5 linked regions of the Homo sapiens genome follow. The protein of the gene in region 3 purifies or fractionates together with the protein of the main gene of each other region. This does not show direct contact. Each region holds a gene or a part of one and is shown on either strand. Other genes may lie near its edges.

The links.
Region 1: the proteins of PPA1 (region 3) and NIT2 fractionate together in Homo sapiens (co-fractionation; one large-scale study listed by BioGRID). This does not show direct contact.
Region 2: the proteins of PPA1 (region 3) and POGLUT3 fractionate together in Homo sapiens (co-fractionation; one large-scale study listed by BioGRID). This does not show direct contact.
Region 4: the proteins of PPA1 (region 3) and PLS3 purify together in Homo sapiens (affinity purification with mass spectrometry, with the first as the bait; one large-scale study listed by BioGRID). This does not show direct contact.
Region 5: the proteins of PPA1 (region 3) and HPRT1 purify together in Homo sapiens (affinity purification with mass spectrometry, with the first as the bait; one large-scale study listed by BioGRID). This does not show direct contact.

The regions. Positions count from the first base shown.
Region 1 is NC_000003.12:100,339,500-100,346,451, reverse strand, and holds part of NIT2 (omega-amidase NIT2), read right to left. Parts: intron 6,638-6,952; coding exon 6,517-6,637; intron 5,380-6,516; coding exon 5,291-5,379; intron 868-5,290; coding exon 774-867; intron 272-773; coding exon 197-271; intron 1-196. UniProt on the Homo sapiens protein: Has omega-amidase activity. The role of omega-amidase is to remove potentially toxic intermediates by converting 2-oxoglutaramate and 2-oxosuccinamate to biologically useful 2-oxoglutarate and oxaloacetate, respectively.
Region 2 is NC_000011.10:108,479,615-108,486,566, forward strand, and holds part of POGLUT3 (protein O-glucosyltransferase 3 isoform 1 precursor), read right to left. Parts: intron 6,827-6,952; coding exon 6,543-6,826; intron 2,609-6,542; coding exon 2,392-2,608; intron 1,763-2,391; coding exon 1,566-1,762; exon of another isoform or gene 1,546-1,565; intron 716-1,545; exon of another isoform or gene 649-715; intron 1-648. UniProt on the Homo sapiens protein: Protein glucosyltransferase that catalyzes the transfer of glucose from UDP-glucose to a serine residue within the consensus sequence peptide C-X-N-T-X-G-S-F-X-C. Can also catalyze the transfer of xylose from UDP-xylose but less efficiently.
Region 3 is NC_000010.11:70,221,667-70,228,618, forward strand, and holds part of PPA1 (inorganic pyrophosphatase), read right to left. Parts: intron 1-6,952.
Region 4 is NC_000023.11:115,646,861-115,653,500, reverse strand, and holds the end of PLS3 (plastin-3), read right to left. Parts: intron 5,952-6,640; coding exon 5,828-5,951; intron 5,609-5,827; coding exon 5,484-5,608; intron 4,073-5,483; coding exon 3,940-4,072; 3' UTR 2,640-3,939; downstream 1-2,639. UniProt on the Homo sapiens protein: Actin-bundling protein.
Region 5 is NC_000023.11:134,486,869-134,491,210, reverse strand, and holds part of HPRT1 (hypoxanthine-guanine phosphoribosyltransferase), read right to left. Parts: intron 1,024-4,342; coding exon 1,006-1,023; intron 1-1,005. UniProt on the Homo sapiens protein: Converts guanine to guanosine monophosphate, and hypoxanthine to inosine monophosphate. Transfers the 5-phosphoribosyl group from 5-phosphoribosylpyrophosphate onto the purine.

The sequences.
Region 1 (6,952 bases), on a different chromosome or scaffold from region 3:
TGTTTAATTACAACCCCCCAAAAACCCTGTCATCCATACACAGCAAAAGTCTGGGAAGCCTCATGGGGGTGAAAGGGCTGAAGATGGAGAAATTAAAGAGCCCTCTCCCAGCTTTTCTTGACTAAGGATCCCACATAGACCAGCCTAGAACCAAGCCTCCAAGCACCCACATAACACAGCTATTACACTGCCTCACCTCTCTGTGCGTAGATTTGTGCAAGCTCTGCAAACCGCATGTCGTAGCAGATGCCCAGACCCACTCTGCAGTAAGCTGTTTCCAAACAGAAAATGCACAAATGAAAAGTTAACTCCCTACAGCATGGTGTGGCAGGGGAAATCCTCCATGACATAATGATCACAAAACACTGACAGGGATAAATTAACACAGGACCTGAGGACAGAGATAATTTACAAGCTCATTCCTACTTGGACTTCATCTCATAAAGACATCATTTACATCAGCGGAGTAAAGATGAGAAATTCATTCTAATTGAATGCTTATTATCTAGATGGGAGGTACTCAACTGTAGCCTAATAGGTATACTCTGGAAGCCGTAACAGGAAGCTACAATCAAATCAAAGGGCAAAATCGTGTCAAATCCTTAGTTCTCAAATAAGCCCGAACTTTCCAGATCTGTGATGATTCTCTGCCTTTCTCACTTATGGTCTTTCAGTTAGGTTATGTGAAGAAATCGGAGAGAGACAAAAAAGAAATAAATACCTGATTGTCTTCTACTGAGATTGCTAAAGAGGCAAACTTATCTGGTACATACGAGTATCAAATGTGGAGAAACTATCACCCGGACTCAATGTTTTAGATTCTTGAAATGTAATTTTTCCAGGAACATCAATGTCAAACAGATGGATCTGCATCACAAATAATGGATTTGGTTACCTCTTTTCCAGCAGGGTCCATGGCAGTAATGACAATATCTTTCCCCGGGCAGATACGGAAGGTGCTCTAAGATTAACTATACAAACAGCACCCCCAAACTGCTTATAATCCACCCCACAAGCTGGCTGACACCTTATCAAAATGAATTCTACCACAGGGAACTGGAAAAATGATACTGTACCTTTTATAACCCCTATTTTCTAGCAGTCTGCAAATCAACCTCTAGGTTTCTCATGGGAGGTAACTAATATGTTGCTTTTTAAAAATATAAATGCTAAATAAAGACTTCTCAGAATCAGGCCGGACACGGTGGCTCATGCCTGTAATCCCAGCACTTTGGGAGGCCGAGGTGGGCGGATCACCTGAGGTCAGGGGTTCGAGACCAGCCTGGCCAAAGTAGTGAAACCTTGTCTCTACTAAAAATAGAAAAAAAAATTAGCCGGGGGTGGTTGTGCGTGCCTGTAGTCCCAGCTACCCAGGAGGCTGAGGCAGGAGAATTGCTCAAACCTGGGAGGTGGAGGTTGCAGTGAGCCGAGATCACGCCATTGCACTCCAGCCTGGGTGACAGAGCAAGACTCTCTCTCTCAAAAAAAAAAAGAAAAAAAAAATACTTATCAGAATCAAACTGACAAATTGACAGGAGAGGTGGAAAGTAGGTGGGCATTTAAAAATCACCTGAGGTCAGGAGTTCAAGACCAGCCTGGCCAACATGGTGAAACCCCGTCTCTACTAAAAATACAAAAATTTGCCAGACATGGTGGTGCATGCCTATAATCCCAGCCACTTGGGAAGCTGAAAGAAGAGAACAGCTTGAACCAGGGAGGTGGAGGTTGCAGTGAGCCAAGATCACACCACTGCACTCCAGCCTAAGCGACAGAGCAAGACTCCATCTCAAAAAAACAAAAACAAAAACAGAAAATGAAAGAGCATCTAAAAACACCAATGAGGAATAAATCTCACAAATGTTAAACAAAATTATACCCAAAAAACTATAAAAAGAAATTGAGAGAAAGTAAAGAAAGCGTAATAAATGTCAGGATATATACCACATTCATGGACTGGAAAACTTAATACTAAAAAGATATACTTCAAAGAGTTGGGTTAATAGTCCAATGCTGGCTGTTCTTCCAGCAGGTACACAGTAGCTCCTATCAGACCAGTTTTCTTGTGGTTAACTATGAACTCTGGACAAAATAAAAGGCACAACTACTTAAAGCACTGAAGAATGACCAAAACAAAGCAGACAAAATCTGAAGAGAAGAACACAGACATGTGGAAGCAGGGAACAGCCCTGGGTGAACTTCCTGGTGCTATTTACAGCTGCTACCCTGAAGCAAGGTCCCAGTTGCTGTGATAAGTAGTGGTGAAAATGACCCATAATCACACTGGCTTGAAGAACCAGAGCTGGAAACCAAGGGGGGAAATCCTGAAATGGAGAAAGCAAAGAGGGAGAGCCCTAAATTCTGCATATAAAATCTTTCTAAATCTCTGGCTGATCACTGAGTTAAATAGAAGTGGGGCAGAACAACCAGATAGAACAGAGCAGCTAAAGTTGCTGCCCACGTTTCAAAGAAGATAAGAGTTTGGTGTTTGGGTGCGGCCAAGTTAACCATCAGTTAAAACAAAATATTCAACACTTTTTGGAAGACTGTAATAGCATCTTGAATCTCTACAATATATAATCCACTGTACAATCTTAAATTAGTAGATACTCAAAGAAACAGAAGTGTGATCCAAACTGCAAAGAAAAGGCAATCAAATGAACACAGATCCTGCCATGACCCAGATGTTATAATTTTTTTCTTGTTGTTTGCTTGGATATGAGTTTATTTACATCAGGGGCCTTTTAAAGGCCTAATAGTCTCATTCTGTGGCACACAGATGTGATAATTATCAGACTTTAAAGCAGCTATAGAAACTAACTAAGCTCAACACTGTAAAGAAAAATATGCTTTTAATGAACAAATAGAAAATATCATAGAGTAATAAAAACTATAAAAAAGAAGCAAAGGGGTATTTCAGAACTGAAAATTTTAATATCTCAATTTTTTAAAATTTCACTGGGTTGGCTTACGGGAAATTGAAGAAGACAGAAGAAACAGTGAATAAGTCTGAAAGATCAACAGAAATTATCTAATCTGTAGAAGAGAAGGAAAAAGTATTGGAAAGACAAAAACAGAAAAACAGAGCCTGGTGACCTTGGAAAAATATTTAAAAATATAATATACATATACTGGAGCTCCATAAGAAAAAGGAACAGAAAAATATTTAACAAAATAGTGTCAAAAAACTTCCCAAACACAGTGAAAGATTTAAATTTACAGTTTCAAGAAGTACCAAGGAAGGCAAAGACAAAGGAAACCACATCTAGGCATATCAGAGTCAAAATACTAAGAACTAAAGATTATGAAAACACTTGAAAGAAGGAGAGAAAAAACAACAAATTATATCCGAGGGAACAATACAAATTACTACTCACTTCTCATCAGGGAAGAAAAAAAAAAAGGCTAGATAACAACTACTAGTGGAAAAAAAGGAAAACTATCAATCCAAAATTCTATTCCAGCAAAAATATCTTTCAAGAATGAAAACAATGTAAAGATATATTCATAAAGAAAAACTAACAGAATTCCTAGCTAACAGATCCTCAGAACAAAAATTCTAAATGAGATCCTTTGGTCTGAAGGATATACCAGATAGAAGGAGGATCTTCAGGAAGGAAAGAAAAACACCAGAAATGATAAATATTTGGGTAAACATAAAGATTTTTTTCTTCTTAATTTCCTTAAAATACATATGACTATTTAAATCAAGTATTCCTGTTTTGTGGGATTTATAACATATATACATGGAATACAAATGACAACTATAGCATAAAGAATGAGGGCAGGGGCAGTGGGGTAGAAAAATGGACCTATATCATTATAAGGTTCTTAAATTTCACATGAAATGATATAATATGAACTCTTAAGTAGCCTGTGAAAAGTTAAGGATGCATATGATAATTCCCAGGGCAACAACTGGAAAAAAAAAAAAAGCTAAGATGTATAACTAAAAAGCCAATAGATAAATTAAAACAGAACTCTAAAAAATATTCAATTAATCCAAAATAATACAGAAAAGATGAACAAAGGGAAAAAAAAGTAAAATGTCTCTATCCCTAAATTCAATCATATCAATAAGTGCATTAAATATAAATGGACTAACCACTTCAATTAAAAGACACAGATTGTCAGAATAAAGAAAAAATTAAGATACAATTATATGCTGTTGACAAAAGAGATCCACTTAAAATATAAAAACACATATAGCTTGAGAACAAAGAACTGGAAAAACCACGTACCAGCAAACATTAGGCATAAGAAGGCTGGAGTGGCTATAGTGATAGCAGAGATAAAGCAGAATTCAAGACAAGAGGTATTACAAGAAAAAAAAGAGATATTTCATAATGATAAAAGGGTCAACTCATCAAGAAGACTTAATGATACTAAATGTATATGATTTTTTTTTTTGAGATGGAGTCTTGCTCTGTCTTGCCCAGGTTGGAGTGCAGTGGCGCAATCTTGGCTCACTGCAGCGTCCACCTCCTGGGTTCAAGCAATTCTCCTGTCTCAGCTTCCTGAGTAGCTGGGACTATATAGGTGTGCACCACTACACCCAGCCAATTTTGTATTTTTAGTAGAGATGGGGTTTCACCATGTTGGCCAGGCTGGTCTTGAACTCCTGACCTCAGGTGATCCACTTACTCAGACCTCCCAAAGTGCTGGGATTACAGGCATGGGCCACTGCACCTGGTCATGTATACGCATTTAATACTAAAAAGATGGCAACTCTTCCCACAGTGTTCTCTATATATTCAATGAAATACTAATAAAAATTACTATAGGTTGGCTGGGCACGGTGGCTCATGCCTGTAATCCCAGCACTTTAGGAGGCTGAGGCGGGTGGATCATGAGGTCAGGAGATTGAGACCATCCTGGCTAACACGGTGAAACCAAGTCTCTACTAAAAATACAAAAAATTAGCTGGGCATGGTGGTGGGCACCTGTAGTCCCAGCTACTCGGGAGGCTGAGGCAGGAGAATGGTGTGAACCCAGGAGGCAGAGCTAGCAGTGAGCCAAGATTGTGCCACTATACTCCAGCCTGGGTGACAGAGCGAGATTCTGTCAAAAAAAAAATTACTATAGCTTGTTCCTTTGCAGAAATTGACAGGCTGAGTCTAAAACTTATATAAAAATGCAAATGGCCAAGAATAACCACCTGTGCCAATCAGTCAAAACCCTAATACATGTGTGATATAATGAGAGGGACTAGGGAACTTCATAGCAAATTTTTTTTCCACACATTGTTGCTGGCTTAGAGATAACAAATTCTTATGCCACACTTCCTACTTACCTTTCTATACTTTGCTAGTAAAGTTCCATCAGGCCCAAACACAGCACAGGTGTTATATAATTTCCCAGCATCCTCTTCAGGGATAGAGCCTTTCATTGAGAGAAGAAACATACCATAAGAAAAAGAATAGAGCAATTCTTTTGTGAGAAAGGGATAAAAGCCTGATAACTTGGGTCCAAAAATAAAGAACCTATCTTTTACGGTTTATTTATTCATTTTGTTTTTAGAATAAGGCAACACCTCATTCTATAATACAGAATAAGTATTCCCTTCTATGGGTTACTTAATCATGGTTTTTTTTTTCCTTCTTGAATATGATCTTTCAGAGATAAACTCCAGAGTGTAGATGGGATATGATTAGGTTAGATGCCAAAGACAGGTTTAAAAAATAACCAAACTGTTCCTGAAATTCAGCCATGATCTTGAGTAACACTTAATCTGTAACATTAGGGCAAAATGAGAAATTTCCCATTGCTTAACTTGAATTCACCAGGTTCTGCAACAAAACTGTGTCCCAAAAGATGAGAACGTAAAGTCAGAAGCCTCTCCATCACTGAATGCAGTTTCATCTCCAGGCTTCTTGCTTTGCCTTCATTTCTAATTCTTAATATATCATCATACAGAAAAAATTGTATTTGCTATATTTATAGAATTTTTCTGTGTTTATTTTTTATTTAAGCAAATAAAACCTTTAAACATTTATTCCAAAACCACAAAAATAAAGCTACCTTTATGTATGTGGCCTCTATGGAAAAAAATTTTTTTTCTCAATCCTCTATTAGTATAGTAAAAAACAGTCCTGGCATGATGGCTCACACCTGTAATCCTAGCACTTTGGAAGGCCAAGGTGGGCAGACTGCTTGAGCCTAGGAGTTCAAAACCAGCCTGGGCAACAAGGTGAAACTCTGTCTTTACAAAAAAATACAAAAATCAGCCAGGCATGGTGGCGCACACCTGCAGTCCTAGCTACTCAGGAGGTGGGAGAATCACTTGAGCCTCGTAGGGTGAGGCTGCAGTGGGCCATGATCACACCACTGTACTCTAGCACGGGTGACAAAGCAAGACCTCACCTCAAAAAAAATAAATAAATAAGAAAAAGAAACTCTCTGCTTCAGCTTCCCAAGCTGAAGCTTCCCAAGTAGGGAATACAGGCGCACGCCACCACACCTGACTCATTCAGATGTTTCTAATGTTTAGGTCATTATACCTTGTGGGTAGGAAGTTACCTCCAATGAGATATATGCTGCATTCCTTTGCTACTTCAGAAAGCTTCTGTGTGGATTCACCAGGAATTTTCTCTGCATATTCAGGAAAATATTTCGCTCCATATGGAGAATTAAAGCATTCCTAGAAAAATATTGGCAGAGAAAAAAAAAGATCAAAACACCCACCCATTTTAAAGTTCTGCTGTAAGAGGCCATAGCTGCTGCTTCTAGCTCTGCTTTCAGTCGAAGGGTTAAAACACAGCTAATAAGAAAAACACTGACATCTCAAGGGTAAAGAGCCTGTAGCCACAGGTAAGACTACAAAGCTAGCCTAGTGGGTTGGAGGAGACAAATCACAGGTGTTCTCCCAGAGCTCATTTAAAAAAAAAATGTTGGAGGCTTAGTGCTAAAACCAATATGTTCTGGTTCTATAAAGACTTAGTTAAATAAGGAACAA
Region 2 (6,952 bases), on a different chromosome or scaffold from region 3:
TGTTTAAAAGTTTTATTTTATAACTTACATCTTCTCTTTGTATAAAAATCACAAGCAGCATTTCTCAGATTAATTTTAAGAAATACATTGTTTAAAGGTAAGGTGCTAAATTTTTGGAAATAGGAGTGAAGACCTATTTCAATCATGTCTCTGTAATAATGGAATCCAGATTTCTGTAACAAGGTAGGAAAACTATTTTCTTTTTAAGTTTTAATTAATTATTATTATTATTTTTTTGAGACAGTGTATTGCTCTGTCACCCAGGCTGGAGTGTAGCGGCGTGATCTTGGCTCACTGCAACCTCCACCTCCTGGGTTCATACAATTCTGGTGCCTCAGCCTCCTGAGTAGCTGGGATTACAGGCACCCACCACTGCAGCCAGCTAACTTTTTCCTATTTTTAGTAGAGACAGGGTTTCCCCATGTTGGCCAGGCTGGCCTCAAACTCCTGACCTCAGGTGATTCGCCCGCCTCAGCCTCCCAAAGTGCTGGGATTACAGGCGTGAACCACTACGCCCAGCCAGGAAAACTATTTTCAAAATTCTTAAAGCTCAATACTGATAACAATGAACACTTTCATTTATTCATTATTTCATTTGTTCCTTATACGCAGTCTATGAAACAGGCAGGCATTGTCTCTATTTTACAGTTTTAGAGCTGAGGAGATAGAAACCTGGAGACATTTAAGGACTTGGGCAATGCTGGCAACATAGTAGGTAAGCTGTCTGCATATTTGTTGGGTTAATATACTTTGTTTTCCATTTCAAATGTAGTTTTCATAGGCATTAAACCTCATTCAATTAGAATAATCTGAAGCAGGTATTATTAACCCCTTCTTTTTGTTTTTACAAATGAGAAAACTGGTATTCAGAGAAATGTATAAACCTCATTCTCTGAGTCCAAATCCCCTGTTCTACTCATTGTATCACTCTGGGATGAAGAGGACACACTCCCAGATTTGGTAAATAAATTTTTCTTAAATAATTGGTACAAGGGAGTTTTTGAGCCCATCAGGTTTTGTCACATTGTTCACATCTCTCCTCTGGGCCTCGTGATAATGCTCTGAAGGAGTAGGCAGGCATCACACGGGTTTAAAGACCAAGGCACCAAGACAGGAAGGTCCCATAGTTGGTGGCAGAGGCAGGATTAGAAGCAGGCCTTGAACCCTAATCCCAACTCCCACTTTACATATATGGAATTTATGCTTTTTCTATTTATAAAAGACATTTGAGATCACTTTATGTAAAAGGTATTTATATTCCCAGTTTATGAAAGCAAATACAAAAAAAAAAAAGAAAGAAAAACGAGACATAAATATACCAAAATCCCAGGTTAATCCTTGTACTATATTTTGAGAATTAAGTACAGTTCTGAGCTATTTGGTAAACTTAACAATGAAAGAAGGAAACCACAATGGGTTTTGTAATTCCTGATATCTAATAAGAAAGTGTGAACATGTGTGTCAGTTCACAAGCCAGGTGAAATTTGCTGAAGCCCACCTATTTTGGTAGACTTTTAATACAATTTTATCGCTTCATATCCATAGAAGAAGACTCAAATGCATACCTTAAAGAAATCAAAGAAACCCATCAACTTGGCTTTTCCAAGCTCCTTTTCTTTCTCTTGGAAAAAGAAATATCCTGTAATTCCTGCATCTAGTAGCTGAGGATTTTCTTTGGACAGCTGTACCAACTGGAGCCTCTCCTCTCGGCTGTCTCTACCTCTGAAGAAAGCTCTCTCTGTTTTATTGATCCAGGAAGGCCCTACAAGTTTGAAGCCATAAAAAAATTAGGATTATGAATTTGACATTTTAATATGGCAAGCATAATCCTCTTTAATCTACCATTGTCATTTAAGATGCTAAAGCTCTTTTATCAACTCATCTTCTAAAGTAGATGTTATTTCAACGAAAATATGGGATTGAGTCTCAATTTGCCAGAAGCACTTTCAAGTTTAGAGTTTAAAAAAAACAGTCTTTTTATTTGCTGTATTATGTAAAAGAATGCTCTAATTTCATCCATTTGTCTGCTAGTGAAAGCTCACGCAAGTATTCGTGTATTCTGTTGTATAATACTAGGAAATACCTGAAATAATGTCGGACCGTGTTCAAAGCAAAAAAGAGATTCAGTGACTGGGTCCACTCACCAAGGCATTAGCTTCTTCCATTTTCTGTGTTTCACAATAAAACGTGAGCTAGCCCTTTGTTCTTACAAAGGGTGACCAGAAAAAACTATATAACTGAGGAACATCCACAAATCTTTAATCCCTAGGTTGGTCAGAATTTTCAGTACAAGACTTTTTCTAATATGCTACTGAATGCAAACATATATGTATAACCCACTCTGTCTCTAAGCTTTTTCTTCATTAATTAGCCTTGCATTTCCCTGAATACCTGTATTTCCCTGAATAGAGAGGAGATCATTTGTAACACCCCGCATGGCTTCAAGCATGGAGTGGGTGATGTCATACGTTGGAAGGACAACATCTCTTGAATCCAGAGAGCCACACCATGAAATGATAGGTATGGGGCTAGGGGTTCCATTGACTTTTCGATGCTCCAAGGGCCAATCTCCAAGATTAACATAAAATTCTAAATCTGGGAGAAGGACCTAAATAAACATATAAACAAACATCAGTGCTGGGAAGATCTCAGTCTTTGGTACTAAGTACAACAGTTCTTTGGTTTTCTTACATATTTTTGACAGGGCTAACCATTCAAAAACAGAGAAGAGAGAAGAATGCCTGTCATTGACAGGATGGCTGTGAATTTGTCACCTGTGAGGATCCTGCATGACAAATTCACTTAACCAGGAGTCAGCTACCTCTGTCCAGAGATGCATGTAAAATTCAGTGTTTGAGGCTGGGCGTGGTGGCTCACACCTGTAATCCCAGCACTTTGGGAGGTTGAGGCGAGTGGATCGTCAGGAGTTCAAGACCAGTCTGGCCAACATGGTGAAACCCTGTCTCTACTAAACTTACAAAAATTAGCTGGGCTGGTGGCAGGCACTTGTAATCCCAGCTACTCAGGAGGCTGAGGCAGGAGAATCGCTTGAACCTGGGAGGCAGAGGTTGCAGTGAGCCAAGATCGCGCCACTGCACTCCAGCCTGGGCGACAGAGCAAGACTCTGTCTCCAAAAAAATAGAAAAAGAAATAAAATAAAATAAAATGTAGTGTTAGAGAAGTGAAAATTGTGTAGAGAGGTAAGAATGAATAGCTTCGATAACCCTCTGCCAGCTGCCTAAGCAAGAGAATCTACAAAGTTAGAACCAAACCCTTGTTTTCCTTCACTGTCCCCATCTTTGCCTCATGTGCCCTTGCCTCTGGAACCTGCCAGTCCATTTCCATCTCCACGGTCAATGTCTCAGTTTAGACTCTCATCATTTCTTGCCTAGATTGCTGCAATAACTTCCTTACTAGGTGTTCTGATTCTGGGCTCTCCATACTGTAATCTGCTCTCCACAAGGCTGCTCAGATTTCCAAAACTAAAATTAATTCTAAAACTAAAATTTCTAAAATAACTTTGTTAATGTCACTACCAAGCTTAACAGAACCTTAAGCCTATGGCACAAGATCTCAACTCTCTGGCTGGCATTCAAGGCCTCACAATCTTGTCCCAGCTTGGCTATAAGCCTCATCTTTCATCTGCCCACCTACCAGGAAACCTTAGGCTACTCTCTGAAAATGCCATCCACCTCAACATGTAATTCCATTCACTTGGAATGTTTTACTTATTTAACTTGGCAGTCTCCTTTCTCATCCTCCAAGCCCAGATCTAACACCACCTCTTCTATGACTCACCCTCCTCAGGCACTTAAACCCTAGGTACTTAATTCTCTTGAGGCCTATCATCATATTGGGATATAATTATTTGTTTGTATTCACATCCCACCCCCACTTCCAAACAACAAAAACAAATCCCACTACAGTGGGCTACTCAGAGACTAGGACTGAGTCTCACTTATCTTAGATTTATTTCTTCCCCAGCCACTGGGCAAAGAACAAAAGGAAAGGGCAAGAGATGTGAATATTCACCCTCTTGCTTCCCTGTCATTATTATTATTATTATTATTTTGAGACAGTGTTTCACTCTGCCACCCAGGCTGGAGTGCAGTGGCGTGATCTTGGCTCACCACAACCTCTGCCTCTCAGGTTCAAGTGATTCTTGTGCCTCAGCCTCCCAAGTAGCTGAGACTACAGGCACGCACCACCACACCCGGCTAATTTTTGTATTTTTAGTAGAGATGGGATTTCATCTTGTTGGCCAGGCTGGTCTCAAACTCCTGACCTCAAATGATTCATCTGCCTCAGCCTCCCAGAGTGCTAGGATGACAGGTGTGAGCCACCGTGCCCAGCCTCCCTGCTATTATTTATAAACTCTTTAATAAACTCCACATTGGAAGTGCTCACTGTGGAGTAGGGTTTCTCAAGCTCATATTATTGACATTTGGGGCTGGATAATTCTTTGCGATGGGGTTGGGGGGTGCTATCCTTTGCACTGTAGGATGCTTACCCACTAGATGATAATAGCAACCCCTGAGTTGTGACAACCAAAAATGTCTCTAGACATTGGCAAATGTCCTCTGAGGGGCAAAATCATCCCTGGTTGAAATCTACTGCTATGAAGCCAGCAACATGGATTAAAGAGGCAAGAATACAGGGCACAGTTGACTAGTTGTAGCCCGGGAAGAGAGCACTACCTTTAGGAGCAGATGCCCATCACATGCTTGTATCCTCACATTGTGGGCTGGTGGTGGAGGGGTTGGGGACTGCTATTTAAAGTAAGAACTGACTGCAGCCACACAGTCAGCATACTTGGGGAATTGTATAACATATCAGGAAAACTGTGTTTTTTTTGGTTTATAAAACTCCCTTGGCCAGGCGCAGTGGCTCATGCTGAGCACTTTGGGAGGCCAAGGCGGGCAGATTACGAGGTCAGGAGTTTGAGACCACCCTGACCAACATGGTGAAACCCCTTCTCTACTAAAAAAACAAAAATTAGCCAGGCATGGCGTGCATCTGTAATCCCAGCTACTCAGAAGGCTGAGGCAGGAGAATCGCTTGAACCCAGGAGACAGAGGTTGCAGTGAGCCGAGATCGTGCCACTGCACTCCAGCCAGGGTGGCAGAGTGAGACTCCATCTCAAAGCAAACAAACAAACAAACAAACAAAAAAACTCCCTTTATGGTCTCTCTAAGTAAGAAAGATAAATATTGCCCACCTCCATCCTTCACCCTGTATGATCAGAAACAAGAACAAAAGGTGGTTTAAGTTGCTCTGCTTAAGAGGAATTTAGAGTTCTGCAAATGTGGAAAGAGAGGCTGAATAGTGAGATAAGGGGGCGCTATTGGGGGATGTGGGGAGCCTGAAAAACAGAGGGCCTAACCACATTAGTGAGAGGCTAAGAACTTAAGGTCAAGGACAGCCCTGAGAAATTCCCAGAGGCAAGTATGACTGAGAGTCTGATTAGTGCAGAGATGTCTATTTTTAAATATCAGGGTTTTTGTTTGTTTGTTTTTTAGTATGCACTGGTGAAAAAAAAAACAACCTGTTTCTGGTAGCCCAAGCTTTGACAAAATGTCCCATGCACGCTATCTTCTAGGTATGCTTAGGGTAAAACAAGGAAAATGTGTTCTAAGTTCAAGTCATTTTGAGGTGAAGAGAAGAAAACAGCTGCAGAAGGTGAAATCTAAGCAGGAGTAGTATTCAGCGGAACAGAGAACTTAAAGCGGCCTCTTGACATGGTTGTGCATGCCTATAGTCCCAGCTAGGATCAAGGCTGAGGCAGGAGGATGGCTTGAGCCCAAGAATTTGAGACCAGCCTGCTCAACACAGCAAGACCCCATCCCTATTTAAAAATAAATAAATAAATGAGACTGTTCTGTTTGGATATTGTAAATATAGACTATTTGAAAAAAAGAATAAGAAGTAACCTTGTTATAAATCTCTGGAAGCTCAAAGAAAGCTTGGGAGTGTCCTGTATGGCATACCTACCTGGGATGGGGGCTCAGCCACTTTATTCTATTTTATTTATTTATTTATTTATTTATTTATTTATTTATTTGAGATGGAGTCTCACTCTGTCACCCAGGTTGGAGTGCAGTGGCGCAATCTTGGCCCACTGCAGCCTCCACCTCCTGGGTTCAAGGGATTCTCCTACCTCAGCCTCCTGAGTAGCTGTGATTACAGGCGCCCACCACCACGCCCAGCTAATTTTTGTATTTTTAGTAGAGATGGGGTTTTGCCATGTTGGCCAGGCTGGCCTTGAACTGCTGACCTCAGATGATCCACCCGCCTCAGCCTCCCAAAGTGCTGTGATTGCAGGTATGAGCCACCATGCCTGGCCTCAAGCCACTTAATTTTAAATCTTACAGGAAAGTAAGATCCACAAAGATGGAGAACATGATGAACACTCAGGTTGCAAATATCTTAGATGCCCATTTCTCAGCCTGAAATCTGTTTCATCCTTTGTCATTATAATTCTAAACATTTAAATGTTATACCTAAATAATTAAACTGTATTATCAATTCATTCATTCTCCTACCTTTCTTGTCAATGATAACAAAATCTCATCAGAGAACATCTTGAAGTCTGTGTATTTCCCTAAAGATCTCCGGTAAACATGGTTATTGAGAATCGTGTAATGAACAATGGCACCTCTCTCATCCCCAAACCTTTTGGGGACTTCTTTTAGCATTTGCTGGAGATTGATGCTGGGAAAGGAAGCAAAATCTTTTGCAATCTGTGGTTCCTTGGTTGGACAAGAAAGAGTCTTCTGCCAGGCCTGAGGATCTTCCGGACACTCACAGTACTCATGGTACACTGGTCCTAGGGAAGGAAAACATGAAAAAGGCCGCACTCCATTAGCAAGCACCACAACACAGGGAGTCACTTCTGTCTCTGCTTCTTGGTGAATTCTAAGATTATCCAGAGATAATCTGCCCTAGACAAATC
Region 3 (6,952 bases):
AGGGCTTTCGGTTTCCAGCAGCAGTACCCTAAAGATTCACAAGATGGAGCTGTTACGACATGAAAGATCAACTGAAGAGCTCGCCAAGATTAGCTGTTAATTTCGTTAAAACACCACCAAATGAATACATTGCTTCAAGAAAGATATAGCAGATAGAGCTAAAATAACTAATTCAAAGTTTAGAAACTATATTGAACACTTTAATAGCAGTAAATGACAAATATGTATAGATCCTCAAAACAGTATTACCTAATAACATAAATCTACATAATTAATGGGAAGGAAAAAAATAACAAGGAAGAAAACATCCTTCAGAAAATGGTAAGAGAATTCTGCTGCGAACAAAAGCTTGAAGGTCTGGTGCTTTTTAGAAATTAGCTGGGTGAGGCCGGGGGGTGGTGGCTCACACCTGTAATCATAGCACTTTGGGAGGCCGAGGTGGGCGGATTATGAGGTCAGGAGATCGAGACCATCCTGGCTAACACAGTGAAAAACCGTGTCTACTAAAAATACAAAAAAATTAGCTGGGCGTGGTGGCAGGTGCCTGTAGTCCCAGCTACTCGGGAGGCTGAGGCAGGAGAATGGCGTGAACCTGGGAGGCGGAGGTTGCAGTGAACTGAGATCACACCACTGCACTCCAGCCTGGGCCACAGAGCAAGACTCCGTCTCAAAAAAAAAAAAAAAAAAAAAAAAGAAATTAGCTGGGCGAAAAACAACAAGGAGTACCTGCAAAAGCCAGAGTCAATTCATTGATTTTTTTCAACAAATATTTGTTGTGAACCACCAGGATGTGCCAGGCACTTTTCTAGGCTCCGAAGACTAGCAATGAACAAAATAAAAGTTCTTTTAACTCCCAAAGAGTTGGATTTCCAAATCAGGTACTTCCTGCTGGTAGCATTGGTGGTTCAGGGGTAGAATTCTCGCCTGCTAAATCAGGTACTTCCAGTTTGTAGGCCTCAGGCTACAGCTTGGGGTGAGTGACTCATCTGTAAAATCAATGTTTAGCACACTTTTTTTTTATTATTATACTTTAAGTTTTAGGGTATATGTGCACAAAGTGCAGGTTTGTTACATATGTATACATGTGCCATGTTGCATGTTGGTGTGCTGCACCCATTAACTCATCATTTAGCATTAGGTATATCTCCTAATACTATCCTTTCCCCCTCCCCCCACCCCACAACAGGCCCCGGTGTGTGATGTTCCCCTTCCTGTGTCCACGTGTTCTCATTGTTCAATTCCCACCTATGAGTGAGAAATGCGGTGTTTGGTTTTTTGTCCTTGCAACAGTTTGCTGAGAATGATGGTTTCCAGCTTCATCCATGTCCCTACAAAGGACATGAACTCATCATTTTTTATGCATGGAATACTAGCACACTTTCAAATGCATGTAGATGCTGTAGTAATACTTGTCTCAGCCAGGCGTGGCGACTAACGTCTATAATCCTAGCACTTTGGGAGGCAGAGGCAGGAGGACCGCTTGAGGCCAAGAGTTCAAGACCAACCTGACCAACATAGCAAGACCCTGTCTCTTAAAAAACATTTTTTTAAAGAGAGAGAGAGAGAGAGACGGGGTCTCACTCTGTCATCCAGACTGGAGTACAGTGACGCAATCATAGCTCACTGCAGCCTCCAACTCCTGGTCTCAAGCAATCCTCCTGCCTCAGCCTCCTAAGTAGCTGGGCCTACAGGTGTGCACCACCACACCTGGCTAATTGTTTTTTAATTATGTTTTTGGAGATGAAGTCACACTATGTTGAGCAGGCTGGTCTCTAATTCCTAGCCTCAAGTGATCCTCCTGCCTATGCATCCCTAGTAGCTGGGACTACAGGTGCAAGCCATCCTGCCCAGCTCTGTACTTGTAAGGAGGGGGTGTTCCACATACTTTAGCAGGAATTACTACTAAAGAACAACCTTCTTCTAGACATCTGGCTACAATTCAAAGAGTTGCTACTAGGTGAACAACAGTGATATTTAGGATTTTTCAGGGCAACTGATATGAGAAATTCAATGAATTTTATAGCAACAGAGTTGCTATAAAAACTATTACTGTTTTTATGCATTCTAATGATTCCAATATTCACGCACTTAAAAAATACTGATTTTAAGAAATTTCGTACTACCCAGTTACAAATTCATTCCTTCTTCTTTAATCCCAACTGGTTTCAGCTTTTACTTAGCTGGATCTTGGATTTACTATCTTGTTACTCCCACTGTTAGGACTTCCCAGAACTCCATCCTCCAATCCTACCATGCTTTGGAGTCTCAGTCATTGCTCTGGCATCAGAGCTCTCAGCTCTCTGTTAACAGTTTCAGAAAAGAAGGAAGTTAAGTCTCCCTAGAGGGATGATTTTGATAAACTCAATAATTACCTTGCTGATAAACCAGTGGGGGATAAGGGAAAAGGCAAACTATAACTTTAGCTCTTGTTCCCAAAGTCAGAAATATAACTGTCTATTTCAGGCCAGGTATGGTGGCTCGTGCCTGTAAACCTAGCACTTTGGGAGGCTGAGGCAAGAGGATTGCTTAGACTAGGAGTTCAAGACCAGCCTGAGCAACATAGACAGACCCTGTCTCTACAAAAAAAAAAAAAAAAAAAAGTCTATTTCCCTTCCCAGATTTACAATCATTTTATCAAGTAGTCAAGATGTTACAACAAAACATTAAAGATGTCCAGATTCTAAGGAAACTGGAAACTCAACAACTCTACATTATGTCACTCCATTAATCAAAAATATTTAAAATAAAAATGTTTCAGGAATAGAAGAAATATCTCCTATATCTTGGTTAGGTGTGTAACTTCACTAATTAAACAGGAATATTAATCACAGTAGTATGGTGAGGCCCCGTCTCATCTCCAAACTGGTTAGGGTCTTATGGACCAAGTCAGTAGTCTGACAAGTTGTTTACTAATAAATAGGCTACGGCCATTTGGTAGGCTGTTATTACTAATGCAGTTAAGTACATATATAGGGAACATGCTCTTAATTTAATTACAGCACGTCTTTAAATCCTAGCAGTTAAGTTCAATGTGTCTTTATTGAGACTTATTTCTTATTTATTTATTTTATTTTATTTTTTGAGACAGAGTTTCGCTCTTGTTACCCAGGCTGGAGCACAATGGTGCAATCTCGGCTCACTGCAACCTCCGTCTCCCGGGTTCAAGCAATTCTCCTGCCTCAGCCTCCCGAGTAGCTGGGATTACAGGCATGCACCACCATGCCCAGCTAATTTTTGTATTTTTAGTAGAGACAGGGTTTCTCCATGTTGGTCAGGCTGGTCTCGAGCTCCCGACCTCAGGTGATCCGCCCACCTTGGCCCCCCAAAGTGTTGGGATTACAGGCATGAGCCACCGCGCCCAGCATTGAGATTTATTTCTAACCCTGGATTTGGTAAATTCGATGAACTATACTACAGAATTATACCAAGTGGCTGACATTAGCATTTTCAAGTTGACTCATTGTGTGTTTCTCTAGATAACTTCAGAAATCTAGTAAATACCAGGCTTAGAAAGAAACACAAAAATCACCCTGTGGTCCCACCACTCTTATTTATTTATTTATTTATTTAGAGACAGAGTCTCACCTGTCACCCAGGCTGAAGTGCAGTGGCATGATCTCAGCTCACTGCAACCTCCGTCTCCGGGGCTCAAGTGATCCTCCTACCTCTGCCTCCTGGACCACAGGCACCTGCCACCACACCCAGCTAATTTTTTTTTTTCTATTTTTGGTAAAGACCGGGTTTCACCATGTTGCTGAGGCTGGTCATGAACTCCTGAGCTCAAGCAATTCGTCCACCTAGGCTGCCCAGAGTGCTAGAATTACGGGCATAAGCCACGGCACCCAGCCCACCCCCCATTTTTTAATCTTTATTGTTTTGCAATAAAATTTGGAGAAAAAACAGTAGAGGTAGAGAGAATTTTCTTCTAAATTTATCTAGAGCATAAACATAAAGCAAGAAACTAATCCAAACCAAGCTTTAACTTTTTTTTTTTTTTTGGAACTTATAGACTAGTTTTGGAGTATAAAATCCCTATCAGAAGAGCTCACGTAGTTAAAAGAAAATGTTCCATCCCCATAAAGATGCTTTCGAAAAGGTATACCAGATTTCACCATTTCCAAGAATACTTTATCTTATTCACTGCTCACCAAATGACAATGGCTCTTAATTCTAAGTTTTGGCTGTAAAGTTGGTTATATGATTCTAGAAGGATATACTCTAAGTTGTTAAAAGTATATGGATACCTGAAGTATTTCATCGAAAGTGACAGAAGTCTATTTGAGAAGCTATCAGAAAGAAATACGATGACCGAAGTTCACACTGTTGTGCCCCTTATTCACTTAGAATTGTGACTTAGCAAAGAAAGACATGACTTACACCAACCCAAAAAACATTTGTTCAACAAATTGTGTTAAGATTCCAAGGGAGATCATTAACTTATTAAAGTAAAGAAATTAAAACACATACACACAAAACTTTTAGTAATACTCATTTGTTTTCCAGTTACATAGATTTTCTACTCATTGCAGCTCAAACAAATGCCTGTATTTGCTACTACACACTACCATATGTACCTGTGTAGAGCAATAACTTAATTTGTCATGTCATAATTAAGAATAAGCTGCTGGCTGGGTGTGGGAGCGCACACCTGTAATCCCAGCACTTTGGGAGCTGAGGTGGGTGGACTGTTTGAGCTCAGGAGTTCGAGACCAGCGAAAGCCTGTCTCTACCAATACAAAAAAATTAGCCAGGTACGGTGGTGTGTGCCTGTAGTCCCAGCTACTCAGGAGACTGAGGTGGGAGGATTGCTCGAGCCCAGGAGATGGAGCCTGCAGTGAGCCAAGATCACAGCACTGCATGGGTGACAGAGTGAGACCCTGTCTTAAAAAAAAAAAGAAAAAGAAAGAAAAAGCTGCTATTTTTGCTATTTTTTCTTTTCAGATAAGCTTTATGATGACTAAATTTTGAAAACAGATATTCTAAGCATAATCTGTTTATTTTCCTGTCTTTACAAAATCAAGCAAAAGGGTCTGCATTTCCAGTTGTCAAACTTTTCTGTTTTGCAATGACTAATAATTTTGAGCGTGGAAACTTCCCCAAGAAAAATGCATTTATGCCAAATTGCAGATAATATTCTGTTAAGTTTCTGAAGCATCAATCTATTTGATTAGAGGCTTGACTTTCTTTCAGAAGGGGAAAAAAGAAACACATATTCCATATTTATATATGCTTCTATACGCTCCCAACAATCACCTGAAAAAAATAGAACCCTACATTGTCAGAACTAGAATTTAACATGAAAGTTTAAGATATGGAATAGAAAAATATCTGATTTCTAAAACTAAAAAATCAGGTCATGATATTTGAGCACTTTAAGATTTAGAGAAAGCTTTTATCTACCCAGTGTTTCATACTGTTTATACCATGTTTTGGAAAATTTCTGGTATCTCAGAAGTTTTATGTTAGAAGATACTCTGAGCTATAGGTGCTTTTATATTTGATCCTAAAATTGACCCAGAGCAAAGGACATCCCTACAATTTAAAAATATCCAGTGAGCCCTTGCCTTTACCTTCTCTACCCACTGGATTCGGAAATAATCAAAGCAGGGTACGCGAGTCACAAGATTTTCCAGAACTGGCTGGACTGATTACCTAATGGCATATGCCAAACTGAATATCCACATTAAAAGGTCCTGATATGGGTTGGACACAGTGGCTCACGCCTGCAACCCCAGCACTTCTGGAGGCTGAGGTGGGCAGATCGCTTGAAACCAGGAGTTCGAGACCAGCCTGGGCAACATAGGGAAACCCTGTCTCTACAAAAAAATAGAAAAATTAGCTGGGCGTGGTGGTGTATGCCTGTGGTTCCAGCTATTCAGGAGGCTGGAGCAGGAGGATCACTTGTGCCTGAGAGGTTGAAGCTGCAGTAAGCCAAGATCATGCCACTGCACACCAGCCTGAGTGACAAAGTGAAACCCTATCTCAAAAAAAAAAAAAAAAAAAAAAAAAGTCTGATATGGATATGAGCCCTTGGGCATTTTTCCTTAGTCTGATATCAATATGAGCCCTTGGACATTTTTCCTTAGTGGAGCTGACTGAGCTGTGTTAAAGGTACATGCTCACTAGATCATGACATTCCCTCATTATAATCCCTCGGATGACTGACCATATTAGGAATAAAGTCCAAGGCCAAGCCCGTGAGAATGTATTCATGTAAACTTAATCACAATAGATTTTTTATACAAAAGAAAGAAAATCACACTCTAATGAATCAAGTTAATCAGATTTTTTTTTTAAGGCTATAATCCAAAATGATGTCTACCACACCTTTATTTGTGTTTTAAACAAGTAACTTCCTTTAAAACAAAACAAAAGAATTCCTTCCAGCCTCTCAGGCAGGAAGGCTTCTGCCCAAGGTCCACTGAGGTCTAGACTACTGGTAAAATCCAGAGTCATAAGAACTTGTGCTTTTGAGCTGGGACAGGGCGTGCCAAGGGCAGAGTCTTCCTTTGAGTAATCCACTTTATAGACACAACCAGTCCCTTATAAGGCTTCAGTGTCTGAGAGTAATCTAAGTGAACACACTTAACAGGACACCAAAATGTAGCCTGTTTCCTATTTTGGAGTAACCTGAAGCAGCAATAAGAGTAGGTACCAAAACATCTATGATCATTCTGGTCCTTGGTAGGAATACAGTCACTTAGAACACTGGGAAAATAGCTCTATGTCAAGAAAATGTTTTCCTACCTGTAGCATACCTGTATGCCAGGGTATTATCAATAAACTTAGGGTCATCATTTTATACCTCTTCATTGCTCAAAATGGTCTGAGATGCTACAGTATGATATACATGCTATTATACAACAAGCAGATAATTCAAGCCAACCCAATGGGGCCAATTGAAGAGGGAAGGATTCTGCAGTTTATATCAACTCCCAGGAAATCAGATGTA
Region 4 (6,640 bases), on a different chromosome or scaffold from region 3:
CCTGGGCAACACAGTGAGACTCTGTCTCAACAACAACAACAAAAAACAAAATAAAACTGATATGGCTGAAAGGAGAAATAGATAATTCTGTATGGGTAGTTTATTGAGGTTAGTGGCTTTTTACGGTTGTCTTGGACAGATGCTACAACAACAACAACAAAAAAAGAGCAGAACACATTCAAAGAAAGCAGAAAGATGGAAATCATAAAGATAAAACCATACATCAATAAAATAGAAAAACAAAAACAAAGAAACAAAAAGCTAGTTCTTAAAAAAAGTAATGAAATTGATAAACTTCTAGCAAGACTGACAAAGGTTAAAAAGAGAGAAGACATAAATCACCACTGTGAGGAATCAAACTGAAGATATCATTACATATCCTGCAGCTATTAAAAAGATAATTAAGGAAATACTACGAAAACTTTATGGTCACAAATTCAGCAACATGGAAGAAGTGAACAAATTCCTCAAAATTCAAAAGCCACCCAAAACGCAATCAAGATTAAATAGATAATCTGAATAGCCCCATAACCATTAAAGAAATATCTCCAGGTTTGGACACTTTTACTGGAGACTTGCACCAAACATTTAAATAAAAATTAACGTCATTCTGAGCTTAGATGCAAAAATCCTCAATAAAATATTAGCAAATAAAATTCAACAATGAATAAGAATTATACACTGACCAAGTGGGATTTATTCAGGCATGCAAGGTTTGTTTAATCTTTGGAAACTAATCAATGTAATCCACCGTATCAATAGGGTAAAGAAGAAAATTTTATGATGATATAAATTGATGCAGAAAAAGCATTTGATAAAATCTACCCACCCATTCATGACAAAAATTTAAAAAATCAATCTCTCAGCATATTAGGATAGAGGGGGAATATCATCTTTATTTTCTTTAAGAGATGGAGTCTTGCAGCCCAGTTTAGGATGCAATGGTTCTATCACAACTCACTGCAGCCTTGATCAACTGAACTAAGTGATTCTCCTGCCTAAGCTTCCCAAGTAGCTGAGACCACAGGTATGCACCACCATGCTCAGCTAATTTTTTTTTTTTTCGAGATGGAGTTTAGCTCTTTCACCCAGGCTGGAATGCAGTGGCGCAATCTCGGCTCACATCAACTTCTGCCCGCAGTGTTCAAGTGATTCTCCTGCCTAAGCCTCCCGAGTAGCTGGTGGGACACATTATGGTGTCCACCACCATGCCTGGCTAATTTTTGTATTTTTGTAGAGATGGGGTTTCACTATGTTGCCCAGGCTGGTCTCAAACTCCTCACCTCAGGTGATCCACCCACCTTGGTCTCCCAAAGTGTTGGGATTACAAGCTTGAGCCACCGCACCCAGCCTCATGCTTAGCTAACTTTATTATACAGACGGAGTCTCCCCGTGTTGTCCAGGCTGGTCTCAAACTCCTGGCCTCAAGAAATCCTCCTACTTCAGCCTCCCAAAGTGCTGAAGTTACAGGTGTGTGGGGAAAAGATGGGGGATTCACCATGTTGGTAGAGATGGGGATTCACCGTGTTGCCCAGGCTGATCTTGAGCTCCTGAGCTCAGGCAGTCCACCTGCCTCAGCCTTCCAAATTGCTGGGATTACAGTTATGAGCTACCACGCCCAGCAGAATTCTGAATGTGTTGCTAATTTTGGTCCACATTCTTATTTGTTGAAATTAGTTTTTGGAGGAAAAAAATTGTGTGTCAGGTCCACTGCTTTATATGAACACTTAACTATCCCATGGTACACTCCTACAGGCTGTGGGCCCTGTATAGTGAACCACCCAAGAAATCAGCTCCTTTTTTGAAGAAAGGGCCACATGTAATATATCTTTCCTATCTTGTTAAAGAGGCACTTCAAGGCGTTAGGGCTTACAGAGAAGAACCTTTGTACTTCGACGAAGATGAACGTGAATGAGTATGGCAGATTCAAGGCATAAGACAGGTCTTAAGATGTAATTGTCCTTACTTCATCAGTTACCCTAGTATGTTTGCAGATTTGTCTTTTTTTCACTCATAAATCCTATTTTTATATTAAAAGAATCTATAATCTGAGACTGAACTCACTTTTTTAGTTATCTATATTTTGATCTTTTTTATTATACATATATATTTGCAAAAGTAGAGTTGTCAAATATATCCTTTTTTAATTTTATGTCTTTGGAATTCAGGTGATATTTAAAAAGGCCTTTCCATCTCTCAGATTATAAATGCAAAGTATTATATAGTATCTCTATGTAACCAAATCCTCAGTAGACTACACCTTATATTACTCATTCACACAAAGGCTTAAATGGGCACTGATTGTCCACAAGGGATGATTTTGCCACCCAGGAGACATTTGGTTATGTCTGGAGACAATTTTGGTCAACACCACCGGGCATGTGCTGACATCTAGTGGGTAGAGGCCGGTAATACTGCTAAACCTCCTACAATGCACAGGGTAGCCCCTTCTCCCCACCCCAACAGAGTTATCCAGCCAAAAATGTCATATATGGATGAGATTGAGAAGATCTACTATGAACCATTTCTCCTCTGTGACTGTTCAGATCCCCACTGTTTCAGGATATGTATATCATAGAACATTGAAAAGACTGAGGGAGGTGGAAAAGAAAGAAAAAAGCAGGAACTGGATAAAGAAATTTTGGTAAATTGGAGAAAACCTTTTTACTTCATTTGTACTGTCCTTAATTCAGTACCTCTAATTCAGCTCCCAAAACTCAAATTTAACAAACACCATTTTACAGAATACATCAGAAAAACAAAAAGAAAAAAATCCTGACAAACATTGGCATACTTCCTAAGAGACAAAAGCATGAAGAACAGACTAATTATTATGTAAATGCCTTTATTTGAACTACTACATTGCTACCAGATTACATCACTTTTCAGAGTTAGAGTAACATAATACCTTGGAAACTATAGCAAACAGCTTGACAAAGCAAGAGTACATTAATTCCTACATATATACTTTTATTTTTAGTGACCACATTTCTTTGTTTCAGGTGTAAAATTAAAAAATATATTGTACACTTAGCATACTTGGCCTACCAAATCCCGTCTAAGTTCTGAGCACACTCTCTCCTCAAAAGTATCATATTCAACAGCATTTTAAATTTAGAGAGAGAGTTTGATGATACAGGTTTTAAAACAAATAAGCATGTATTGAACCAAGTGATTTAAGACAAAATATTTCAATTGTTTACAGCTTGGGTATGAGAGGGAAGATGCAAATTTAAGGTACATTTTTCTTCTAGCTACGATGTATGTTTTACTTACTTGAAGACCCCTTAAAAAAAGTAGCAAAATCAGCAGTCTTGTTTAATATAATCAAAATATTCTTAAATGTACAAAAAAGGATCATGTAGAAAGAATACTGTAAAAAGATACTGATCTTAAGAATAAAAGAATAAGAAAAGCTTCTATTACATTCTGCACAGCCAGTTACTTCGGCAAATTTTCAGTACTACAAAGATAAGCAAAGGATACTCATATCCAAATACGCTCTGACCATAGTTCTCGAATAAGAACTAGCATACTGGATGGAAAGCAAAATTACTGTCTAATAATATTCATATCCCATCATCTAAGCAAGTCCCAAGAGAGGGACATTCTAAGAGGGCAAAAGATAACAGAGCAAGAAATAACATACAGCAATGGGAAATGTCAAGGGCAGCATTCTAGGAGGAGAGAGTAAAATGTTTTGGCTATGAGCACATTTCAGGCGTGCCTGACAAATTCAACTCTGACTATGGGAAAGAGGAGTTGTTTTTCTTAAACCCTTTCCCCTGAGGGCTCTCATGATAAGCTAGTCCTGTTAATCAAAATGAAAAGTCCTTTGAATGGCCAAGAGTTCCTTAAGCCATAAGCACTTCACCTGGAAATAGCTGACCTGCGAATCATGCACCTGGGAGCATGGCTGTTTTATTCAGATTGGTTATTTTACACTCTCTTCATTCCCCTGCCCATCAAACATGCAAACACAGTCATGACCATCTTGGGCTTTACTTCCACAAGGTCTTCAGGGAGAGCATACACTCTGGCTCCGATTCTTCTAGCCATTGACACTGCATACCTATTTTAGGGGGAAACAAAATCAGGATGAAATTCTTGTCAGTTAAGGACACCACGTAAGACATCTATTTCCTCATATATAATTATTATGCTGGGATGCAAAAATTCCATATTGATAGTTCCAATTAGAACAGTTTTGCTTTTTGTTTTCTTTTGATTTGGGTTTTGATTTCACTTTGAAGTTACAGTAGGTTTTTAAGCTCTATTATTTGGGGCTAATAATATTTATTCACTCTTTTTCTCCAATGTGAGGTGAGAATTAAGCTTGAAGCACCAACTTTATATATATAATTACCTAGGCTGTCTATACAATCCATGTTAATATTCTCATTGCACACATAATAACACACACTCAAGTCATCTTAGAGATATGAGGTGGAAAATCATGCTAGATGCAAAACCCAAGTTGTTAGGCAGATGCAATGAATACTTCCAAGTATTCATGAGAGGGGAGACAGTCTACGTGGTACGTGGACAGAGTGGCTGGACCAAAAACTAGAAAAGGTAGACGAAGGGACAGAAGAACTGAGATGTCCAGGTAGGGAAATTTTCAGGAACACATCTCAACTAATCCGTGAAGTATTTCTAGGTGTGTTGGAACCAGAATCTTTAAAGATAATTAAATCATCGAGTTTCTAGAAAAAGAGATTTCAAGAGTTCTTGATATATTGTGGATATTAGACCTTTGTCATATCTGCTAGAAATATTTTTCAAGGAAAAAAGAAATAATGTGCCTAACTCCAAAGTTTTGCAGGAATGCTTCTTAGCTGTTCGGTAATGCAGGACTGTGGATGGATTTTCAATGTCTAACTAGTAAGGTTTTCATGGGTCACCCATGAAGCCAGGTCACACTCTAGGCCTTTGGTGAAGAAGAAAATAGGCTGGTGGAAAAGACCTTCTGAATATTGTTGAAATGCAAGAAACTTTCAAGGCATAGTCTTCTGTGGAGGGCTAGCAAGCATTCTGTTAATATGGGAACTGATGAAGATAAATTCAATAAATGTAGTAAGAATGATCTATGTATAGTAAAAGAGACATAAGTGGATAATGCGTTTTTTAAAAAAAGAATGAGACAGACAGATGAACACCCTAAGCTCTTATTTTCCTTGTAAAGTTTTACCTGATTTGCATTAAAATACATGCTACATTATTTCTGTAATCCACTGAAGCAACAACCGACTAAGCACCTAGTAGGCCAAGCACAAGGCTAGGCTCTTATAATTTTTAAAAATTTAATCTTTATAAAATCTAAGGTAAGTATTATTGCCCCCAGTTTATTGATGAGGAATCTGAGGCTCCAAGAGGTTTCTCCCAAGGTGACACCACTCTTAAATGGCAGAACCTGAATTAGAATTCAGATCTGTCCAGCTACAAAGCTGCGTTCTTTTCATACTATTAGCAGTCTCCCTTACTTGGCATTATTGTGCTTGTCATCTTCTGTTAGATTGCCACTCTTCACAAGGTCATAGTTTATACAGCCTGGCTGGATGGCATCAATTAAATCCACAACTGCCAAACTGGAGCTGATCGTCTTGTCCTAGTGTGAAAGGAGAACAAATCTGAGAATTTTGATACATACAAATTAACATGTGCTTACTTATATCAAGTGCCAAAAACAAAGCCCAGTGAATTCGTAAAGAATTGTGCCATTAGCCCAACACTAATTCTCACTCACAAAGAAGCCAAAAGTTGCCTTCCCAAATGATAGATGTTATCCAGCAAACATAATATTTAATAGTCAAATATGGATTCTGACCTTAAAACTCTGAATGGAAGTTGATTTTCCAGCTTCACTCAACGTTCTGTTCACCCAGTTCACAATGATGTCGTCATTGGCTTTCTGACCATCTCCAAGATCTTCCAGGACATTGAGGGTATATCTAAGAGAGGCAGCAGAAGAAAACGTCACCATCTACTTTATGAGGAAAAATGCAAACATCAGAAAGATGCTTTATCTTCCACTTTTTATATTTCTTAAATTTTTCTTCTTTTTTTTGAGACGGAGTCTCGCTCTGTCGCCCAGGCTGGAGTGCAGTGGCGCAATCTCCTGCTCACTGCAAGCTCCGCCTCCCGGGTTCACACCATTCTCCTGCCTCAGCTTCCTGAGTAGCTGGGACTACAGGTGCCCACCACCACGCCCGGCTAATTTTTTATATTTTTAGTAGGGACAGGGTTTCACCGTGTAGCCAGGATGGTCTTGATCTCCTGACCTCGTGATCCACCCTCCTTGGCCTCCCAAAGTGCTGGTATTACAGGCGTGAGCCACCACTCCTGGCCCCTATATTCCTTAAATTTCAAGGACTAAAGATTTCATGGAAAGAGATTCACACTATGTGAAAAAAATATTTCAAGCAGTAGTGGCTTGCTACTGATCTACTCTTTGTAGTGGTGAGAGAGGAGCAGATTGACAGTGCTTTAATGAGCAGGTCCAACAGCCCACTGTAGGCACATTTTGTACTATTCCAATAGCGGTAATGGCATAAAATAAGCTGTGCTTTGGCTGGTGCCCAGTCATAATGAATGCTTTTCAGCATTATAGTGATCTTCATCAGCATTACAGAGAGAGATC
Region 5 (4,342 bases), on a different chromosome or scaffold from region 3:
AGATGATCAGTTTGCTAGGTGCTGGGGGAAGGGGAAATGGGGAGTGATGGCTAAGGGGATTGGGTTTCTTTGTGGGGCAATGAAAATGTTTTAAAATTGAGCGTGATAATGATTGCACAATGCTGCATATATATATAATCTATAGATTATATATATATAAAGAGAGGCTGTTAGACAGTGATAAGTGATATATATATATATATACATAGAGAGAGAGAGAGAGAGAGAGAGAGGCTGTTAGTGATAAGTGATCAGGAAAATAAAAGTATTGAGGAGGAATACGAAGTTGACGGTGTGAAAACATGAGATTTTATATAGGATGGCCAGGGAAGGCCTTAATGAGAAAGTGACTTATGAGTAAAAACAAGGGATCCTAAACCTTAGCATGCATCAGAATCACTCGGAAACTTGTTAAAGCATAGCTTGCTGGGCCTCATCACAGATATTTTGATTCGGTAGGTTCTTGTCTGATATTAATACTTTTGGTCTAGGGAACCACATTTTGAGAACCACTGAGCTAAAGGAAGTAAAGGTTTCCCTTAGTTTACTAGCTGGTAACCCTAGGAAACTGCTTAGCCTCTCGGTGCTAAGATACAAAATACTTTAGCACATAATAACACATGGAAAATAGTCTATAAATTATAAATATTATTTTTTATGTACCAAATATTACATAAGACAAAATCTAAGCAAGATATATATATATATACATAAAATATAAGATATATATGTATATATTATATATAGATAAATAGAGAGAGAGAGTTATGTTTAGAAAGAAAATACTTCAAACTAAAAAAAGAGAGGTAGGAAGTATACCATTCCATTATTGGTAAAAACAAATTACTAAGTAGTCTTTACAAAAAACCAATCTCACTCCTTTAGAACACAAGCCCACCATTAAAACTGATGCAGAGGAATTTCTCTCCCTGGCTTACCTTTAGGATGGTGCATACTAAGTTAGAAAAGTCATAAATGTTATATTAAAAGTAAATGTGAACTTACTTCCACAATCAAGACATTCTAGAAGAAAAAGAGAAATGAAAATCAGTACAATGAATAAAACGGTATTTCCAATTATAAGTCAAATCACATCATAACAACCCTAAGGAATTATCCAAACTCTTGTTTTTAGATGCTTTATTATATCAAACTCTCCTTTAAACAAGTGGCCCATCTGCTGGGATTTGGAAGCCTGTAATACTGAAATTTTCATCATAATGGAAATTTTAAAAACAGAATTTGACCCACCTGTTTTTAAAACACTTTCATTACTTAACAAGAGGTCTAATCTTGGGCAAGTCTTGAAATTTCTCTGGCCTTAGTTTCCCATGTGTTAAATGAAACTTGAAGCAGTTGGTCTCTTATAGTCTCCTGACTCTAACATTCTAAGAATTATATTTGTACAATAACTCAAAAATCACATAATTTAATTTACCATATGGACTCCAAAATATATTTTCTCATTAGGCTAAACTTGATCTGCATTTTCTGGATGTGTCCATATTCTTGGACTACACTAAAACATGATACCAATGCTTCCTCTCACCATAAACCCTCACTTCGCTTTCTACATTTAAGAATTTTATAGCTGGAAGAGTCCTTAACAGAAAATACCATCTAATAATTACCCCTCAAAATCGAGAAAGTCCTATCTGTTCTTATGCTAGTTATAAGAATGAGGCAGCATTTCACATAATGGTTATAAACACTGCCACAAGAAGATTCATGATGTGTTGTTTATCTGTAGCTCTCATCATACTCTGTCATATAACTATAGCATTAAGATTTTAATGTTCTATATATTCTTCTAAGACAGTGTTTACCAGAGTAAGGCACAAAAGATCCACTGGTTTGCAAGAAAGATTAGAACTTTTAAATTTTTTACCTCACCTTGTTTAATCTATATTTTTGTATGTATTTTGTAACATATATATTATTATTACCATAAATCATATATAATTTAAAATGCATATATTAGGGGTAAATGCTCAGGAAACTTTTTATAAATTGGGCATGCAAATACAAGTTTGAAGACTCACTGTTCTAGGTATTAAAAGTAAAGTTATAACCAAGTAAAGCTTCCACCTTTTCATGTCTCAAAGCAGTTTATTGTTGGAGGTAAGATCTCTTAGAAGCCTAAACAGGTCCAAGTACAGAATGAAGTAAGGCTAGCCCATAACTTGTGGCAAGCAATTCATACTATTTCTCTCATGCTGAGCTCTCCTCAGTGAAGCAGCTACTATAGACAACTGCAGCCTATTGGTAGCCTATTTTACAGGCAGGAAAAAAATTACTTTTTATTCAAAGTGGAACTCAGGACATGGGGAGAAAATGAATACAAAAAATAGGGTCAATCCAAAGGCACACAGCAAATGAGTAACACAGTTATGTTTTTTTCCCATTTGTATGAGGTCCCAGTAAATTCTAAGTAAACTGCAAATTTAATAATACACTAAAAAAGCCATGCAATTGTTCAAATGAATCCCAGCATGGTACAACGAGTACAGACACTAGAGTCTAAAAAACAAAAGAATGCCATTATTGAGTTTTTGAATTATATCAAGTAGTTACATCTCTACTTAATAAATGAGAAAAACGAGGATAAGAGGCCATTTGATAAAATGAAAATAGCCAAGAAGTGGTATTAGAGACTTGAATACAGGTATTCGGGTCCAAAGTTCATCTGCTCAAATACTAACTGGGGAAAAGAGGGAAAAATATTTATATACATATATATCTGCACACAAAAATACCCCCAAAAGACAAAATGAGGCCAGGCAGGGTGGCTCACACCCGTAATCCCGGTACTTTGGGAGGCTGAGGCAGGTGGATACCTGAGATCAGGAGTTGGAGATCAGCCTGGTCAACATGGTGAAACCCTGTCTCTACTAAAGATAAAAAAATTAGCCAGGCATGGTGGCGTGCGCCTGTAATCCCAGCTACTTGGGAGTCTGAGGCAGGAGAATCACTTGAACTGGGAAGGGGAGGTTGCAGTGAGCCAAGATCGTACTACTGCACTCCAGCCTGGGCAGCAGAGTGAGACTCCATCACAAAAATAAATAAATAAATAAAATACAATGAAACAGAAAGTTCAAATAATCCCATAATCTTACCACCAAGAAATAACTTTCACTCGTTATACTTATTGATTTTTCCATAATAAATGTACTTTACTGTGACTATCATGAAAAGAAAGTTATTTTAGAAACAGAGAACTGTTTCAGATCAAATCTATGTAGTAGAACAGAGCCATTAGGTGGGAAAGACGAGATCAAACTAAATCTCAGAAGGCCTAAAAGGCTAGGTCCATTCCAGCACTAAAAACTGACCAGACAAGTAATGGCTTCAACAGCTTCTAAATATGGACAAAGCATGCTGAAAGGGAAGGACAGGTCTAACAGTGGTATATGAAATGAACAGGAGGGGCAAAGCTCATTTCTCCTCTGAAGTTTTCCAAAGATGCTGAGGAGGACATTAGTTTGACATGACCCTGATATGGGACAAGATAATTTCACAGAAGTTTTACATGTTAAAGTTTTCTTATAGATACTCATTCAAGTAAGCAATGAACACTAAAATCTAAAGAAAGAAAAGAGCTTTAGAGTCAGGTCTGTATTCAAATTCAAGCTCTACCACTTACTGGTTCTGTGACTTTGGGCAAGTCTTTTAACCTTATTAAGTCTTAATTTCCTGATTTGTAAAATGGGGATATCGTCTCCCTCACAGGATTGTTGTGAAACTTTTATGAGATTAATGCCTTTATATTTGGCATAGTGTAAGTAAACAATAACTGGCAGCTTCAAAAAAAAAAAGCAGTAGCATTCCATCATTTATTATTGGTTACTCTCAAAAAGTTTTTCAATGTACTAGAAGATAAATATTCAAATACCTTAATATCTCCATTATTTTCAGGTAAACAGCATGCTCCTGAACAACCAATGGGTCAACAAATAAATTAAAAGGGAAATCTAAAAACATCTTGATATTAAACTACATGGAAGCACAATATACCAAAACCAATGGTTCACACTAGGAGAATTTTAAGGTACAAGAAAACTCTTTGAGATTTCTTAAAATAATAGTATGTCTGAATTTATTGAGTGATTTACCAGAAACTGTTGTAAGAGCTCTACTTGCATTATAGCACTTAATCCTCTTAACTCTATGGCTGCTATTATCAACCTCACCCTAATCACATATGGGACACAGAGAGGTTAAGTAACTTGCCCAAGGTCAGAGTTAGGAAGTACTAAGCCATGCTTTGAATCAGTTGTCAGGCTCCGGAACTCACACTTTCAGCCACTACATAATACTGCTTTGCTATCTTTTAGGAAACTAT